3 linked regions of the Homo sapiens genome follow. The protein of the gene in region 3 interacts with the protein of the main gene of each other region in a pairwise test. Each region holds a gene or a part of one and is shown on either strand. Other genes may lie near its edges.

Region 1 (4,255 bases), on a different chromosome or scaffold from region 3:
TAAGATAGTAATTTTTTTGCCACAATAAAAAATATAGTTGAGATAATCAGGAAAAACTAAACACTAACTCTTCACACAGTTAACTGCATTTGAATTCTGTACTCATTTGTGACAGATACAGCTACTTAATACTCAGAGAGTGGAAAGAACACTTCTTTAAAGAGGTCAAAAATCTGGCTACTAGCCCCAAATCTCCTAACTAGCTATTAGATGATATTCAAGAATCACTGTTAATTTCATTGGATATGATAATGACACTATAGCTATGCTTTTTGAAAAAGGATTCATACTGAAGTAATTTTGGGGTAACATTATGTTTTCTATGATTTACCTTAATATACTCCAGCCAAAAAATAAAGAGTACAGGTGGGGCAGGGGTAGCTGAGAAAGGATGGCAGAGTGGTCTCGTCATGCTTGTTAAAGCTGGGAGAGAGGTACATGTACGAAAAGTTTAAAACAAACCAAACAAAACACGAGGGGAAGAAAAGCATGGATGGGTATTTGGAAGGAATGGCAGCAGGATCAATTTATTGAGATTTTGTGACAGCATCATATACTACAGACACTATTGCTGATTTTCAAAAAGCATTGCATTTCAATTTGCATCTAACAGATTAAAAATAAAGAAACAAATGAAATTGAAAGAATGATCAAGCTTCAAGTAACGTTTCTCACCACCTCCCCCGGCCACAAACAAACAAAAAGGTCCATGGTTTAAGAATGTTGAACAAAGGGACTAAAGGTGTCATGGAGACCTGCCCACCAGGGCCAGAATCTGGACAGTGATGGAGAAATTTCTGCTGCAAAAATGTCCGCCGCGTCAGGGAATACAAACCACATACGAGAGGGTGTTGATGTTGTTTCTCAGATACATAGGATGGACCTGTTTTCTTTCTGCTAATAGAAAGCAATCAGTCAAGCAAGGACTTCAGAGTGGATGAAGGGTACATAAGACCACACAATGATGGCATTCAAGAGAAAGAAAAGAGGTAAGGATGCAAAATTAAAAAAAAAATAGGACTTAATGAAAGCTAATTTCATCAAGCCCAGGTCACTGATGAGAAAGATGTAAAATCAAGAAACCAGTGAAATAACACGTAACAGGTGAGTCAAACATTACCAGCCGCATCAAACAGTGGAAGTGAAATGGCACCATCTAGCCCACCTGGTGAAATCCAAAGCGAGAACTTAAAGGGAGTAAGGATGATTCACAAAATGCGGTCGGGACACAAGAAAAGTGAGTTTGGAAGGACAGTGAAGAGAGAAAAAAGAATAAGGAAACCACCAAAATTTCAACTCAAAGATACATTTTAAACTGCATGGTATGGCCCACTGTCAATACCGTGGCTGCCTGGGAACAAAAAGGGTGGTCTCCAGATCCCCCAGAACCCCACTATACACCAGGAGGACAAGGAGGAAAGGAAGAAACCCCCTTTGCCTGCCAGAATGCACATGAGGGAAGGAAGGCAAACCCCTAGCAGTTGCTGCTTTGACACATCACCTGCCCCAGCAGCAGGCAGCTCGCTACCCACTCACATTCCCCAGGACTGGCTGCTCCATGAATCCTCTGGGCACCTGTGCCCAACAGAGTTCCTTAGCAAGCTCCACTGGAACGTTGAAAAATTAACATTGAGTGTTTACTGTGCACGCTGTGCCATGTGGAACTCATGCACAAGGCTTGATGGATCCCTCCTGACAAAACAATCTTGAGGTAGATACGATAATTATCCCCATTTTAGGGTTGATGGAAACCAAGGCTGAGTGAGGGAAAGTCACCCACCCAACGCTGCCCTATGAGTGAGCAGCAGGGTTAGCCTCTCCAGTCAGAGCGAGTGTCTTCACTCCCCATTGGAGGAAGACTTTCCATCACAAGCCTAAATCACCCAGCAGGAAACCAGCCCAGCCCTGTCTTCTCAGTGAGGCCTTTTCTAACACGGGTGCTTATCTCCATCTCAGGATCAAAGGATCTATTGCTTCTGGCAAAAGGGCAAAAGCACCGCTTTTACTGGGAGGTACAAGACCTGGTTTCTAGCCCCAAATCTCCTACATATCTTGTCATACTGCCTGTGCCCTATCTCTCTTTGCCTTGGTTTCCTTATCTCCAAATAGGGAAAAGCAGCCTGTCCCCAGTGAGCTCCCCGAAGGGTTGTATAAAATGAGACAAGGGAGGCAAAGCCCTCTGAATTCCTAAGCAGCCATGTTCTCACCATCACCGACCATGGCGCCCACCGTTCTTCTCCCCTGACCTTGCCCCCAAAGGCCCAGGAGCACAGACAGTTAAATAGCATCCCTCAAGGCCTGGAACAGGAGGAGCTTTGCATTCCAGTAGATTTTGCTGATGCCCTCAATAGAGGTGATCCTGATAGAATCAGAGGAAAAGAAAATATTCTTCTCTAGCAGCCAGAGGGCCCTTCCATCTTGCCTGTTCTCCCAAATTACCTGGCAACACTACCCCTTCCCCAGAAAGGCTCTGGATCAATGATTCTGGAAACCACTTAAGTCCTAAAGACAATTTTAAAACACCAGGAGAAAAATGCTCCTGCTCCTCCCCGCCCCACCTTCTAGAGGTATGCCTTTCTAGCAACCCCGAGGGGAGGTTCATCCCTGGGAGCTCTGCAGGAGAAGGTCCCCATTCCACATCATCTGGAAAATAGAGGGGAGTGCTAATATATGTGACCTTAGTGATCTCACAAGTGCATCAAAAAAAGCAACTGGCCAAGGAAATAGTTAAACCAGCCTGAACATGCCAGGCAGGCCCACCATAAGTCACTGTTTGAGTCAGGCTTGTGACCAAGGGTGTGTAGGCAAGGATGAGTGGGCAAGGCTGGAGGGGAAAAGCAGGCAAACCACTCTGAAGCAGGATGGAGGGTCGAGGACAAGGGCAGGGCAGAGGTGCACAGGGCAGGGCCAGTTCAGGGAGACCGCTGCAGGATGAGCTCTGTGATCTCGGCCCTGCTACCCAGCCTCATGGGTATCCCGTAGTAGGCTGTGCCTGGGCTGACATACACGAATGTAGCCTGGGCCACCTGGTAGAGACCAGCAAAGAAGGGATTCAGGAGATAGGCTGCTACGTTCAAGGGGAAGATCTGCCCAGCATGTGTGTGCCCAGAAAGGATCAGGTTAATATCTGGCCGAGCCTGGAGAGCTCTCTTGGCAGCCAGGGGCTGGTGAGCTAGCAAGATGATTGTGTGGTCTGGGCTGCAGCCCTCCAGGGCCTTGTCAAGATCCATGCCATGGCCAGAGTAGTGCAGGATGTCTGCTTCAATATCGTCCACCCCAGCCAAGCAGATCCAGTCCTCATCCTCACTCCCACTGCCACTGCCACCACCACCACGTTGGGCCCGTGTGGCGGAAATCTTCACGTTCTCATTATGAAGAGGCTGGACATGCAGGGATTCCAGAAGTGCAAACCAGTTGCTGACATCTGACGTGTAGTACTCATGATTGCCTGTGACGAAGTAGGCACCGAGATGTGAATGAAGCTGGCCCAGAGGAGCGACAGCCGTCCGCAGGACCGAGGCTTCTGAGTCGGAGAGGTCACCCACAATCACCGTGATGTCTGGTTCCAGCACATTCACCATCCTCACAAACATTTCCATCTTGGTCCTGCCCACTGTGGGGCCCAAGTGAATGTCTGAGAGGAGCACGATCTTGAGGTTGTTCATTGAGGCAGGCAGCTGATGGATGGGCACCTCCACAGTTTTCACAGCCGGGGGCTGCGCGGCATTCAGAATCCCGGCCACGCTGAGCACAGCAGTCACTCCCACTGCCAGGGCAGGCCTGAGCACGAGCTTCCTTGTCTTCTCAAGGCTGCCCACGACCCTACCACTGCGCCAGGCCAAGAGCTGGTAGGCCTGCTCCATGCCGCTGAGGATGAAGAGGAAGAAGAGCATGATGATGTAAGCACCCAGGCAGGAGTAGGCCGCCAAGGAAAAGAGATAGGGCTCTTCGGCCACTAAAAAGAACATGGTAAAGAAACTGGAATGGGCCAGGGCCAGAAATGCCAGAACCACCACCTTCCAAAGCTGAAAACAGGTTGACTCTGCAGCTGGGGAGTGGCAGAGGTTGCTCACTGTGCTGCGCCAAATGTAGAGGGAGCCAATGAGCAAGAGCGAGTTGACAAACAGGGCAAGCTGCAAGCGAAGCAGCCAACGCCAGGCCCTGAGCTCAAGGCTCTCTGCCAGATACGAGCGGGAGGCGATCATGGACACGAAGACAGTGACAGCAGCCAGGGTGGCCTTCGCGCCTAGGGACA
Region 2 (7,835 bases), on a different chromosome or scaffold from region 3:
CCCTGCCATAGCTCGCCAGCCCATGAAGCCGATAAGGGCCACATAGACCCCCACCAGGTAGGTGAAGGCACCTGAGAGGCATGGGTAGAGGAGGGCATAGCACAGGCCCGACAGCGCTGCCATCACCAGACCTGTCCGAAGAGCCAGTGGCTGCATGCCAAAGGCCGAGGCGTAGAACATGTGGGTCACAGCAAACATCAGCAGACCTGGGGGTAAGAGGGGCAAAGGCAGCTGAGGGCAAGCTTGATGAAGAATGAGTAACAGGGTGGGGGTAGGGATGGATGTGGCGATGGAGTGGAGTGTTTGGGATAACCCAGCAGCTTTGCTTTGGGATAACAGGGGTAGGAAGATCTAAAGTTAAAGACCACCACCCCAGTCCCCTGAAGGACTCTGGAACTGATCACTAGTTCCCCTGCGAGGTCATCCCCTAACAAGGACCCTCACAGTCCCTGGCCTCAGAAACCCTCAGGCTCCCCACACTCTGGTTCAAGAACTCCCTCTTCCAAATCTTTGCCCACAGCCCAGGACCCTCTATCCCCCAGCCCCAGGACTCCTCCCAGGCAACTACTATGGCCACTGACCATGCACGAAGTATCCTTGGTCCTGCCAGATGAGGAAGGCGTCACCTACAGCAGAGAAGACAAGCCCCACAAAGATGCGGGTGGCGCTGGGGTGGGCCAGCAGGAATCCCAGGCCATGGGCCAGAAGGAAGAGCCAGAGGCAGAAGATAGGCAGGCACTTGATGAGGGTGCTGACCCACGATGGGCTAGATGAGGGCAGCCAGAGCACAAAATACACGCAGGTGGCCTTGAAGAACGGCACCAGTTTGGGTCCTTCACTCTTCACCTGGAGGACACAGGACAAGGGCAGCACTCAGAACTTGGGGGTTGAAAGCCAGCACCCTCAGCCTAGGCATCCACCCCAGAGACACTCCCATCCATACCCCCACCTCACTTCCACCCCCAACCTGAGAAGACTGACACAGAGAAACCCAGCCTGGCCTGCCTCTACCAGCCAGCAGGTTGTGGCCAAACCCATTACTGCCCTGAGGCTCAGTATATTAGGAGGGGCACCCTTCTGCAGCCTAGTGTGCTTCTCCCTTCCTGCCCCCTCCTTCTCCCTCCTCAGGGCCCCTTTAGCCCCTCCTCTCTGCCAGCAACAGCCCCCAGCTGTTCACTCTGGAATGGAGTGAAGTCAGTGGGAAACCACAGAGACACCCTGACTGGCCAACTCGTGATCCTCAGCATGGGGCCAGGGTGCAGCCTTAGGGCCCTGGCAACACCAGGTGTGTGCCAGGAATGTGGGAAAGCAGGCAATGGCAATCACCTCAGCCACCACAGCCTCTCTCCTCCTCAACCAGTCTGTTCCTCAGCCTCCACTCCACCTGCCCCAGCCTGAAGGTGGCATCAAGGGCAAGGAGGGCTATGCTAGGGATGCTGGCTAGATAAATGGACCCATGAGTTGGGAGCAAGAAAATTGTCCTTCAAACACCAAAGATTTCAAGGATTGGGGGAAGGGAGGGTGTGTGTCAGTCAGCCTCATTTCCCAGAGAACAAGAGCAACTCAAGCCACACCAGAAAGAGGCAGGAAAGGGGGGAGAGGTTCTATTCCCAGCTTCTGATCTGGAGCCAGCAGACAGGCTGGGAGATGGGGAACTGAGAGGGGGAAGTTAGAGCAGCTGACTTGGTCTCAGCCGGATTAGCAGAGGGCAGCTAAAGAAAGGTTGTACCCAAGGCCACTGCAGGCAGAGTCCAAGCTGGGGGAGGGGGCTGCAGCGATGTTCTGAATCTGTGATCCTTGAAACTCCTTTCCTTGGGCTGCTAACAGATCCATTGAGGGTGATATGGAGCAGCTGGAGTTCCCTGTACACCCACACTCTGCCCAAAGCGATTGTGTCTCTGGCTAGGTGAGCTGCCCAGCACAGGACTTGGGAAACACTCAGAGTCCAGACGACCAGGTACCTAAGGACTGATCAGACTGTGATGAGGAGGATTGGGAAGAGGCGGATGGGTGGTTCCAGGGTCCAAGCCTTTCCTTGTTCTGCCAGAGGTAAGAGCAGTGAGAAGAGATGACTTCCACTTCCCATGGAAATTAAGGCTGGTCAGGGTAGGGGCATGGTCAGAGGAGGCGGCTGGAGGGGATGCCCAGGCCCACAATGCCCAGCAACCACCTGCCAGCCCCTGGGAGCATTAACCTCCGCTCCATGGCCTCTCCCAGCCCCATATTTTCTAGAAGGAGATACTGGCAGTAGCTGGAGAGACCCTGACAGTTATAGGGAACCCAGTAGTAGAATAAGGAGGATGGGGAGACGAAACAAAAGGTTCAAGTTGAGAAAGTCTGAAAAGCAGGGGATGTCATAGAGAATGCCCCCTTTTCCCCCAGCGCGTTATCAGCGCTTCTTAGACTCAGGGGCGTCCGCCAACTTGTTTACAAAATGAGGAAGGTTAGGAAACAAACTTGGGACGGCATTCCCAGGAGGTCCCTGTTATCCTCCCAGCATCCCCCGCCCCCACGCCTCCCTGTGGTCCGCCTACGCGGAACTCTGCGGCCGGCAGCGGTCCCCTCCCTCTCCCGGGCCGCGACCCCGCCGACCCGCGCCAAATACATGGAGATCAACAAAGTCACGCTTCCGAGTCACGTGGCCAGTGTTTTCCTCCCTCCGCGGGCGGGCTGGGGGCGCGCGAGGAGGGGCGCCGCGAGTCTGAGGAGCGGGGGGCGGTGACAGCGCCCGCCTCCCGCCGCGGGACTCCGGCCGCCACGGGACCCCCGCCCCGCCTCGGCCCCTTCGGCAGCTCGGCCTGCCGAAGTCCGGTGGCCAGGCCGGTGGGCTCCAGCCGCGCCGGGCACTGGCTCGCTCGCTCGCTCACTCACCACAGTGACCGGGGACACCATGGCGGCGGCGGCGGCGGCTGGCACCCTGCTCCGGGCTGCAGCGGCCAGGACGCGCCCACGGCCAGGTAAGCCGGCGACGATTCTACAAAGCCCGGAGGGACGGACAATACCTCCCGAGCGCCCGGCGCCGGGGTTCTGTCAGCTAGCCCCGTGACGTCACCGCTGCCAGGGCCAATGAGCGGGCGGGAGCCGGGGGGGCGGGGCCCGGCTGGCGGCGCCGGCCAGGCCCCCGGCTGCTGCTCGGAGAAAGGAGGCATCTCCCAGGGGTCAGAAGGCGGATACCCCCCAGGCCCCGCCCCCTTGGGAGGCCGTGCCAAGGCGTCCACGGAACGTGAACGTGACCGTGACCCCGGTGCCTGGGTGAGGACTGAGCTTGGCTGAGAGACAAACACATTGCTGTCCTGGACGCACAGCCACATACATTTTCTCATAACCCGGGAGCAAAAGGCAAAGACAGATTCCCTTAAGCCTTTAAACATGCAGTCCACGCCGATACGATTGCAATTGGACTCACAACCTTCACTGTGTACAAACACACATCCAAATCATCAGCAAACACACAACCTTCGACTTGAAAAGCGGCACGTATATAGGTATGCAGCAGCCATGGACCCATAATCGTAGCATATACATCACACATACAGAATCATAATTACCCTTAAGCACTCAACAAGTACACAGATCCAAAACCAACAACCACAAATTGACATATATGCTCCATGTAAGAAAAGAGACATATACAGGGACTCTACAGCAGCTCGTAGACCCATGACCCTAATATAGAAACAAACACAGATAATTGGCCGTAGGCACACACCTCTTACAACTCAGAGACCACTGCCACACATACAAGAGCACCCCAAGAATGACAGACAGGCAGACCCAAAGAAGCGTGAGCTAACTTTGCCAAAAATACGTCCCAAGTGGATTTAATGTTGATTTTACGTAGACTAAAGGAACACAAGCTCATTCAGAGCGGTGCATGTTCAGAATCATTGGAATTACATGGAGAGGTAGGTGGCCAGATGGACTGAAATCTAGTCCCAGTTTTGCCACTTCCATGCTGTTAGATTGGGTGAATCACTTCCCCTCTCTGGTCTTGATTTCCTCACTTAGAAGATGAGCGGGTGAGTTCTAAGGTTCCACCCAACTCTGACATGTGTAGGTTGGGGAAGAGGAAGGGCTGCTGGTTTTAGGAAATTTAAGTCTAGCAATCCTGGAGATGGAGATTTCAGCTGTATCTCAAAGGATGGGCAAGTAGTCTGTAAGCTACTGTAGAAGGGCAGTAGCTGTGTGTCAGGCTTTGGGAATTGATGGGAAAGGGGTGACCAGCCCTAATTAGCAGCCAAAAAGGAGTTTCAAACATCCTGGCATGGTGACACAGGCCCTTGTGCTGGTCCTGAGCCTTGTGCTGTTTGGGCAGAGACCGACAGGCTGAAGTCTCCTGTAAGCCCCTCCCACAATGGGTCTCTTCCTTTTCCTTCTGGATCCTACCCAGTTTTCCCTAAAGTCCCAACACCCATTCAGAGGGGTGATAGTCCTCTTCTGGTGACAGAATTGGCAACCAGAGATTCAGAGTCCAGTACAACAAGAGTGAGAGTCAAGGCTTGGGACAGGAGTCACCCAGATCTTCCCCCCATCCCCTCCAGTCCCCTCCAGCATAGAGTTCTAAGGGTCAATGACCTCTGCCTACTCCTCTTTCTTTCCAGTTAGGGGCTTTGGGGAGAGCACCTTACCAGAATGAAGGACTATAACTGCTGCCCCAGGGCTTTGTCACTCACACACACACACACACACATTTCTACCAAGTGTGCTGCCTAGAGAGAACACTGGCTTGAGAGTTAGAAATGCCATTCTTAGTCCTAGTGCTTCCTTCTCCATGACTCACTACTGTGGTGTATAATTGAGCACATCATTCCATCTTTGGAGCTTCAGATTTCTCATGAATAAAATGGAGGAAATGGGCTAGTAGAAGGTGCAAATATTCCAGTTTTCCAGCCAAACCCTCTAACATCACCTGAGGGATAGTTCTCAAACAGAAATTTGCCAAGTCAGGGCATTTTTCATTTCTCTAGACCTTAGTTTGCCTCTCTATAAAAATGAGAAGGTGGACTATATCCGTGGTTCTCAACAAGTGGTACCTATCAAAATTACTTGGAAAGCTTTTAAAAACATAGATGCCGTTGCCCCACCCAAGACCTACTAATTAGTGGCACCAGTTCTAAGAAGCTTGCACATACAAATACCTAACAATACAAAACATGAGACTTAGAACTCCCATCTACAGGGTTCCACTCAGTGCTTGATTACCCAGTAGGCAAACTAATCATATACACAAGTCGCCTACAAAGCAGAGGCATCCCCCCTCAATGCCGGTTTTTCTCCATTTGCCTTCCCACCACCTAGATTCATTCTTGGCTCTTCTCTACCCTGTCCTGGGAGCCTGAGCTCTATGGACTGTATCTTCAGGGATCACCAGGGCCCTGGCTTCTGGCTGAGTTCAGCCAATGAAATTCAGAGGCAGGAGATGAGAACATGGACGAGGCCTGATGGACCAGGCTGAGATTCTGGCTGTGGCCTGCTTCTCCATGGCTACAGCCCCAGGCTCCCTCCCCATACCTTCAGGCCAGGGGTGGCAACAGTTTCCTGCTGTTGCTAGTCTTTTTTTTTTTTTTTTTTTTTTGAGACAGGGTCTTGCTCTGTCCCCCAGGCTGCCATGCAGTGGTGTGATCTATGCTCACTGCAACCTCTGCCTCCTGGGTTCAAGCGATTCTCCTGCCTCAGCTTCCCTGGTAGCTGGGATTACAGGTATGTGCCACCACGCCCGGCTAATTTTGTATTTTTAGTAGAGATGGGGTTTTACCATGTTGGTCAGGCTGCTCTCGAACTCCTGACCTCAGGTGATCCACCCGCCTCGGCCTCCCAAAGTGCTGGGATTACAGGCATGAGCTACTGTGCCCAGTGCTATTGCTAGTCTTTAGGTGCCTCCTCACCCATGGCTAGTTTCGTCTCTGCAAATAGTCATTAAATTCTCTTCAGTTAAATTATTGAGTGTGCCAGTACCCTGGCTGATATAGGCACCCACAAAGCAAGGGCACCACCCTCTTCCCAAAGAGAAAGAGCTTATTCTGACTTCATTCATATGGTTGAGATTTGTTGTTTCAAAAGTAAATTTTCATTTACTATTTACTAGTGTTTACTATTTACTAGTGTTTTTATTTTGAATTGCATATTGCAGGAGGCAGAAAGTGGGATAAGGCTTCCTGAAAATGGGCATTTCTCCCTTTTGGTAGGAACTGGCATTTCTTCCTTTCCAACCTATTGGCATGGCCCTTTTCACACAGCTTTGTAATTTTCCCTGTGCTTGTGAGCCCATTCACTCACTCATTCATCCAACAAATGTTTACAGTGCACCTAATATGTGCTAACCACTGTATTAGGTTCTGGGGTGTAAAATATTGAGTAAAATATATTCTCTATCCTTATGGAGCTCACAGTTCATTTCAGACAGGCAAGTAAACAATTATTCAATGTGGTAGCTGACCTAATGAAGTATGAAGGTGTCACAGGTGGCATTAAAAAAAGACATCAGAATTATAAATTACACCTGGAGCAATTGCAGGAGCTAGAGTTAAATCTAGAAGAACGAGTTAGTCTTTATTGAGCAGACACCAATGTATATGCCATTCTAGGCAGAGGGAATTGCATGTGTACATAAGAGCACAAGAGACACACTGAATTCAGGGAAATATCTGTAGTACTGATTCGAGCTGGGGAGTGAGAAGGTGAAACTGAAGAAGCATGAGCCAACTCAGATCTTGAAGATTCTACTCAGCCAGGCGCGGTGGCTCATGCCTGTAATCCCAGCACTTTCAGAGGCCAAGGTGGGCAGATCACCTGAGGTCAGGAGTTCAAGACCAGCCTGGCCAACATGATGAAACCCCGTCTCTACTAAAAATAAAAAAAATTAGCTGGGTGTGGTGGTGGGCACCTTCAATCCCAGCTACTTGGAGAATCGCTTGAACCCAAGAGGCAGAGGTCGCAGTGAACCGAGATTGTGCCACTGCACTCCAGCCTGGGCAACAAGAGCAAGACTCTGTCTCAAAATAAATAGATAAATAAAAATAAAAATGAAGGTTCTACTAAGAAGTTTAGACTTGACATAGTAGATGACACTAAACCAATTGTCCTCTGTTCCTTAGCATCTCTAATTGTGCCCGCTGTCATCCACCAGCGACATGGGCAATGCACAGAAATGATGACCCATCATCATTCTGAGCTTGCCTCGCTTCCCCCATGGGGCTTCTTCTCACCCAGTGGCCTCCTTCATCTCTGACCTCTGTTGTTTTGCCACAGGATATTTTTCCTCACTTAGTTTGTCCTGCTTGAAATCATAATCCAGCCCTAAACTGATTATCTTATTCCCAACCTGATGCTGGATCTCAGCTAATTTCTTTTCTGTTTCAGGCCTCCAGAGCACTTTTTTTTTTTTTTTTTTTTGAGACAGAGTCTCGCTCTGTCGCCCAAGCTAGAGTGCAGTGACGCAATCTCAGCTCACTGCAAGCCCCGCCTCTCCAGTTCACGCCATTCTGCTGCCTCAGCCTCCCGAGTAGCTGAGACTACAGGCGCCCACCACCACATCCAGCTAACTTTTTGTATTTTTAGTAGAGATGGGGTTTCACCATGTTAGCCAGGATGGTCTCGATCTCCTGATCTCATGATCCGCCCGCTTCGGCCTCCCAAAGTGCTGGGATTACAGGTGTGAGCCACTGCACCCAGCCTCCAGAGCACTTTTAACCAACTCTCAGGGTCACCACACATACCCGATTCCACCCCCACCCCACCTGCAGATATGTCGAAGAAATCAGAGATGTTAAGGAGGGTGTGACAAGGTCAGATGTTCTGATAACAGTGTGAGGGCGTCAGTTGTTGAGTTGTAAGGA
Region 3 (7,021 bases):
TGAGGACTTAATGAGGAACGGTCACAGAGCTCAAATGTGTAGTAAATGCTTCATCAATCTTCGCTTAAGAAAAAAACAAGAGCGGATCACCTGAGATCGGGAGCTCGAGACCAGCCTGGCCAACATGCAGAAACCCCATCCCTACTAAAAATACAAAATTAGCCGGGCGTGGTGGTGCATGCCTGTCATCCCAGCTACTTGGGAGGCTGAGGCAGGAGAATCGCTTGAACCCAGGAGGCAGAGGTTGCAATGAGCTGAGATTACGCCATTATACTCCAGCCTGGGCAACAAGAGCAAAACGCTGTCTCAAAAAAAAAAAAAAAAAAAAAAAAAGAAAGAAAAGAAAAGAAAACAAAACAAAAAAACAAAAAACAAAAAACAAGAGCCCCTTTGAGGCAGGTTGGGAATGCTATGATAGCGTCATTTTTAGAGTTGAAGAAACTGAGGTTCAGAAAGGTGATGTAACTTGCCCCAGGTTGCCTGAGTAATTGATGAGGGAGACTTGGGTTTCCATGTGATTCCATGTGATTGATAGCACAAGCTCTGAACCCACAGCGCAGGACTCTCTGCTCACACTGGCTCCGCTATTCCTTGGCTGTGTGACACTGAGCAAGTCAACACTGCTGCTGAGTCTTGGTTTTTCTCATCTGTAAGATAGGGCTGCCTGTCTCTTTTCAGAGTGCCCTTTGTGTCTCGTGGCTCGGGGACTTTTTTCAGGGGTGAGAGTAGGAAGCAGAAGCTATTTGAAGACAACCCTTCTTCCTGTCCTTTCCTGAGAACCTGAGCGCAGTGAGAAGGTTAGGTCACGTGGGTGGGGGGTGGGGAGAGAAGAGTGTCCATCTGCCATCCACAGCCAAGGGGAGAGGAGAGATTGTCCTTGGCTGGGAGGGGACCGAGGTCTTGGGCACCTAGAATTTGCTTTCTGGGAAGATGGCAGGACCTCTGGGGGAAGTCACTGGGTGATATATCCTGGATGTCAAAATGAGACACAGTGGTTTCAGGTCTTACAAAGAATCTGGACTCCAGGCATGCCAGGGAAGTGGGCAAGGCTGGACTTCAGACAATCAAGTCCATTTGGGCAATGGGCATCCATCGTAGGAGGACCCAGGAGCCTCCCTCACGCTTATGTTCTGTGTGTCCTCTGGGTCAATGTGCATGGGTGGGGATGGGAGTGAGGGAAGCTCAGTGCACTTGGAGATTAAATTTCCTCCTAGCCCAGTAGGATGAGGCTCAGGGTCCTATTGAATGTGACTTCAACTGAATAAAGAAAAGATCAATTTATGCACACCCGAGGGTGTGCAGTAAGAGTGACTGGTACTGTAAAATGAGGTGGGAAGAGAGGGGGCTGGCGCTGGAGGGCTCTGCTTGGCTGAGCCAGGCTGCCATTTTCCCGTCTTCACTGCCTTATCCTGGCCTTAGCCGGCCAAAGGGTAAAGGATATGCTTCACCTGCCCAGCGCAGGTTAGGGGGTCACTCTGGTAAGCCACAAGGTGGTTACAGAGCTGGGGCCAGGATTATTGGGACTCCACCTCCTGAGCTCTCCCTGAACTTCTCCCCAGCCTCCATCCTGGTTTTCATGCTGCCAACGTGTCTACTTGCCACTCATTCCAGGGAAAAGCAGCCAGGCCTCATTTTATCCTCATCTCAGATCCACAGCAAGAGCAGATGGGGTGAAGATCAAACTCTCCACCACAGCCATTCCCGAGCCCTGTGCTGCTGCCCGCCCTGTGCCCGCATCAGACAGTTGACTCGCAACAAGCCTGTGAGTGACCTTCTCAGGCCCATGTTTCTCAGAAGAGGAAGCTGAGCAGGAAAGAAATGGAGTGATTTGCATTAGGCCATCGAGCTACCAGTGGCAGAGCTGGGATTCAGACCTGGACGCTGACCCCAGGGCACACTGGAAAATACTGCTCTTCCCTCCGCTGAGTGGAACTTACACCAAAGCAGACCCCTGGCCTCCTGAGTCCAGTGTGCCCCTAACACTACCTTGTGGTCTCCCCATCTATAAAATGAGAGCGCAGGACTCACCTGGTCATCTCAAAGGCCTCTGCCAGCCCCTGTCATTTCCTGGCCCCCATCTACTGTTGCAGTCCACACCTCGTAAGGCAGGATAGCCTGGTGGCTGAAGGGTGGGCCGCGAAGCCGGAGTGCCTAGGCTCAAGCCAATGCTCTCATTCAATGCCCGCATGATTTCAGGTGGGTCACCTAGCCCCCACCTATCAAGTGGACAACAGTGATAGCTCCTACTGCATACGGCTGTTGTGAGGATTAAATAAATCCAACCACTAAAGGCTCTTAGGGCAGCGCCTGGCACACAGTAAGGCCATCTCTGTGTGTGTGATTCTTGTCTCTGTAATGAAATGAAAGCCAAAGTCCTGATTCTTGGTCCTAGGAGGGGGATGCCAGCCCTGAACTTTCCTGCGACTGGTCCTCCACAACCCCAGGTGTCCTGAAATGACATCTATCCCCTGCCCCAGACAGGCCCACCTGGCTTCTTGTGTCCCTGGAGGGAAGGGATAAGGTAAGAATACAGGTTTTGGCCAGGTGCAGTGGCTCATGCCTGTAATCCCAGCACTTTGGGAGGCCAAGGTGGGCAGATCACCTGAAGTCGGGAGTTCGAGACCAGCCTGGCCAACATGGTGAAACCCTGTCTCTACTAAAAATACAAAAATTAGCCAGACGCAGTAGTGCACACCTGTAATCCCAACTACACGGGAGGCTGAGGCAGGAGAATCGCTTGAACCTGTGAGGCTGCACTGAGCCGAGATTGTGCCACTGTACTTTAGCCTGGTCAACAGAGCAAAACTCCGTCTCAAAAACAAACAAACAAACAAAAAAGAATACAGGTGTTGGGGAATGAGGAAGAAGCCTAAAATAAACAACAAAAAAAGCTACTCACGGTTGTGTTGTGGGTGGCTGGGCACTGGGAGCTGCCGGGGGCTGAGGAGTCCCAGTTGTTTTCTGTCCTCTCCCAGGACCTGGCCGTGGGTGCCACTCAGAGCACCTGTTGAGTGCCACCCCAAGCCAGCTTTCTCTTGCTTTTGTACTTTCTCACAGATGAGTGAGTGTGAGGAGGTCTGGCCTTCCGTGCCTGTTACCACTTCCCCTCCAGGTCCCTGGTGCCACAATGCTCTTGCCCCTGCGGTTGAGTTATCTCTTACAACGAACTCTGGCCAGGGTGGGGCATGGGCCTAGACCCTGGAGTCAAGGGACTTGGGTTCTAATACAGCCTCGTTAAAATGTTGATTCACTTAACTTCCCCAAAGGCAAGTTTCTTTATCTGTAAAATGGGGATAATGCACCAACATTACAGTAGATCACCTAAAAGGACATGCCATTCCAATGCCTCTTCACCACTAGGCCAGAGCTTTGAAATGCAAATGCCTACAGGCAGATTAACATAATGGGTGATGGATCCTGGTGTGGGGCAATAGGGAGTGGTAGGGACTGTGGGTAATAGGGGGAACACAGGACCCAAGTGGAAAAGCTTGGCTGGAGCTGAGAGGTACCTGACCCTCTCTACTGGCCCAGCTGAGAGGTATCTGCCCCACACCCCAGACCCTGATCTGGGCCAGTAGAGAGGGGCAGGTACCTCTTAGTTCCAGCCAAGCTTTTCTGCTTGGGAGTATAGGCAAATTGTCAGATATTCCAAGCATTTGGAAGTTGTGCTGTATTTTTCAAGAGATACCAGAAATCTTGACTTATGTGATAGCTTCCTGTGTGTGTGTGTGTGTGTGTGTTTTGTTTTTTGTTTGTTTGTTTTTGTTTTGAGACCAAGTCTCGCTCTATTGCCCAGGCTGGAGTGCAATGGCGCAATCTCGGTTCACTGCAACCTCTGCCTCCTGGGTTCAAGCAACTCTCCTGCCTCAGCCTCCTGAGTAGCTGGGACTACAGGTGCACACAACCACCTCCAGCTAATTTGTAGTTTTAGTAGAGACAGGGTTTTGCCATGTTGACCATGCTGGTCTTGAACTCCTGACCTCAAGTGATCCACCCACCTTGGCCTCCTAAAGTGCTAGGATTACAGGGTGAGTCACCACGCCCAGCCACTTCCTGTTTATTTTATTTTACTTTATTTTATTTTATTTTAATTTTTTGAGGCAGGGTCTCGCTCTGTTGCCCAGGCTGGAGTACAGCGGCACGATCATAGTTCACTGCAGCCTCAAATTCCTGGGTTCCAGTGATCCTCCCATCTCAGCCTTCCAGGTAGCCGGCAGAACAGGCATGTGCCACCACACCTGGCTATTTTTTTTTTTTAATTTTTTTGTATAGATGGGGGTCTCACTATGTTGCCTAGCTTGGTTTTGAACTCCTGGGCTCAAGCAAATCCTCCCGCCTCAGTCTCCAAAAGTGTTGGGATTACAGGCATGAGCCACCATGCTCAGCCAGTTGCCAATTTTAGAATGTAAAGCCCAAAGTCACACCTTTAAAAAATGCTATGTGAGTCAAACTAAACATTATCTTCAGTTTATATTTATTAGGGAGTATGTCCCTAATGTCCAGTCCTGGGCTGGATGTACTCAGGTATGGTATCTGATATAGTTCCAAGTGTCCTCACACCCACTCTCAGATAAAATATTTAATGAGACGCCATTATATTCTAAGGATACAGAGATGATTATGGCAAAGTTTTTGCCCTTGTAAACTCATGGCCTATGATTATCTCATCAGATCCTCTCACTAACTGCTCCCCACACCCCAGACCCTGATCTGGGCCAATGAAGAAAGATTTTGCCCCTGAGGTAGAGTTGCAAGATTCTTCAAGTAAAAAATGTTACAGGCATGAGCCACCCCACCTGGCCCAATGAATTATATTCTTGAAGATGATGGAGAGTAGATTTTAAGTGTTCTCACCACAAAAATAAGTATGTGAGGTAATGCAACAATAGTTGAGACATTCAGGCACTAAAAATTACTTGTTGCTTATGTGCGATTAGAATGCTCAGCCTAGCGTGGTGGCTCACGCCTGTTATCCCAGCACTTTGGGAGGCAGAGGCAGATGGACTGCCTGAGATCAAGAGTTCAAGACCACCCTGGGCAACATGGTGAAACCTCATCTCTACTAAAATACAAAAAATTAGCTGGGTGTGGTGGTGCGTAGTTGTAGTCCCAGCTACTCAGGAGGCTGAGGCATGAGAAATGCTTGAGCCACAGAGGCGGAGGTTGCAGGGAGCCGAGATCGCCTTACTGCACTCCAGCTTGGGCTCCAGAGTGAGACTCTGTCTCAAAAAAAAAAAAAAAAGAAAAAAGAAAAAGAAAAAAAAGAATGTAACCAGGCATTCTCTGTCTTATCTGGCAACACCACCCAGAGGGGACACTTGGCAATATCTGGAGACATTTTTGGTTGTCACAACCTGGTGGAGGAATTCTACTGACATCTGCTAGGGAGAGGCCAGGAATGCTGCTAACCATTCTGCAATGCACAGGACAGCCCTACAGCAAGGAATTATCCAGCTCAAGATGCTAACTTGCGAACCCTGGTCTGGACCTAGTCCTGGCTCCTTCAGCGCAAAGCCATTGCTGGGAAGGGCCTTTAATTTGATCATTCATCCCTTTGGGAAATGGAACAGTAACAGCCTCCAGCCCTTGCATCTCTCCCAAGAGCAAGACATTGGCAGTGAGGAATGGGACAGAGAGCCCCAGGTGCCAAGAAAGAGGAAAAGAAGACCAGAAGGAGCTGGGGAGTGGGGCCCGCCTGCAGCCTACATCAGACTCCTATCTGGGCTGGAATTGGAGACCCAGGGGTGAGCTGGAAGAGATCTAGCAGATGCTTCCACAATCCTGAATCCTAGACCTCTGGCCTTGAGAAAGCCCCACATGGGGAAGAAGGGTGAGGCTGTCCCCAAACGCCTGGTCCTCCATTGCAGCCCAAAGCATGTAATTGGAGGTGGAAGGCATGAATGAGTGAAGGAATGAATGAACGAAGGAAGAAAGAAAGGAAGTTACTGAAAGTTCAAGTGGAAGGAACGCTGGGAAGCGGAGTTTTTGTGTGGTCTCTGCCATTGCCTGGCTGACCAACAAGTTGCTTCCTGTATCTGTTCTCAATTTCTCCATTCCTAAAATGAGGAAGTTGGAGATAACAGGTGCCCCTGAAACGCCTGAGTGCATGGAAGTCACCCACAGGGCCTGTTAAAACACAGATTGGGGCCGGGTGAGGAGGCTCATGCCCGTAATCCCAGCATTCTGGGAGGCTGAGGCGGGAGGAGGTCTTGCCTGAACTCAGGAGTTTGAGGTTATAGTGAGCTCTGATTATGCTACTGCACTCCAGGCTGGGTGACAGAGAGAGAACCTTGACTTGAAAAACAAAACCCCAAAACACAGATTGCTGGGCCCCACTCCCAGAGATTCTGATTCAGTATTCTGGGATGGGGCCCAAGAATCTGCATTTCTAACTAATTCCCAGGGGAAGCAGATGCTGTCGGTCCTTGGACTCCCTATGGGCAGCACTGGACAAGAGAATCAATAAGGAAGCTCCATGATCTCTCAGTCCCCTGGGCAGGGCTGATGGGGCCCACAGGGGAAGTCTGTTCTCTTTTTGCCCTGGGAGGGCCAGGAGCAATTGTAGGTGAGGGTTTAGGAGGCGGTTTTCTCAGCTCCTTGGGTAGAGCTGGCCTCAGCAGCCCTTGTACTGTGAGATGCCGCCATCTACAGGATGGATCTACCCCATGCTGGGGCCGAGTGCTGTCATATTGAGGGTCTGATCTGAGGAGGAACATTCCCGAGAGGTATACTTTTCCTGTCAGGCCACAGGGAAGCAGTCTTTGCACTGTCTGAACCAACTGACCCTAAGATGGTTCAAAGCCAGGCATGGTGGCTCATGTCCGTAATCCCAGGCCTGTGGGAGACCGAGGAGGAAGGAAGGATTGCTTGAGCCCAGGAGTTCGAGACCAGCCCAGGCAACATAGCGAGACCCTGTCTCTACAAAAAATAAAAAATTAGCTGGGCATGGTGATGTATGCCTGTACTCACAGCTACTCAGGAGGCTGAGGCAGGAGGGTCATGTGAGCCCAGGAGGTCAAGG

Evidence for each region.
Region 1: the proteins of CNR2 (region 3) and TMPPE interact in binary tests that used the Homo sapiens proteins (3 or more experiments, as listed by UniProt).
Region 2: the proteins of CNR2 (region 3) and TMEM86A interact in binary tests that used the Homo sapiens proteins (3 or more experiments, as listed by UniProt).

Annotation. Positions count from the first base shown.
Region 1 is NC_000003.12:33,089,922-33,094,176, forward strand, and holds the end of TMPPE (transmembrane protein with metallophosphoesterase domain), read right to left. Parts: coding exon 2,913-4,255; 3' UTR 501-2,912; downstream 1-500.
Region 2 is NC_000011.10:18,693,944-18,701,778, reverse strand, and holds the start of TMEM86A (lysoplasmalogenase TMEM86A), read right to left. Parts: upstream 3,001-7,835; 5' UTR 2,893-3,000; coding exon 2,872-2,892; intron 847-2,871; coding exon 582-846; intron 207-581; coding exon 1-206. UniProt on the Homo sapiens protein: Catalyzes the hydrolysis of the vinyl ether bond of choline or ethanolamine lysoplasmalogens, forming fatty aldehyde and glycerophosphocholine or glycerophosphoethanolamine, respectively and is specific for the sn-2-deacylated (lyso) form of plasmalogen.
Region 3 is NC_000001.11:23,910,347-23,917,367, forward strand, and holds the start of CNR2 (cannabinoid receptor 2), read right to left. Parts: upstream 3,017-7,021; 5' UTR 2,900-3,016; intron 1-2,899. UniProt on the Homo sapiens protein: Heterotrimeric G protein-coupled receptor for endocannabinoid 2-arachidonoylglycerol mediating inhibition of adenylate cyclase. May function in inflammatory response, nociceptive transmission and bone homeostasis.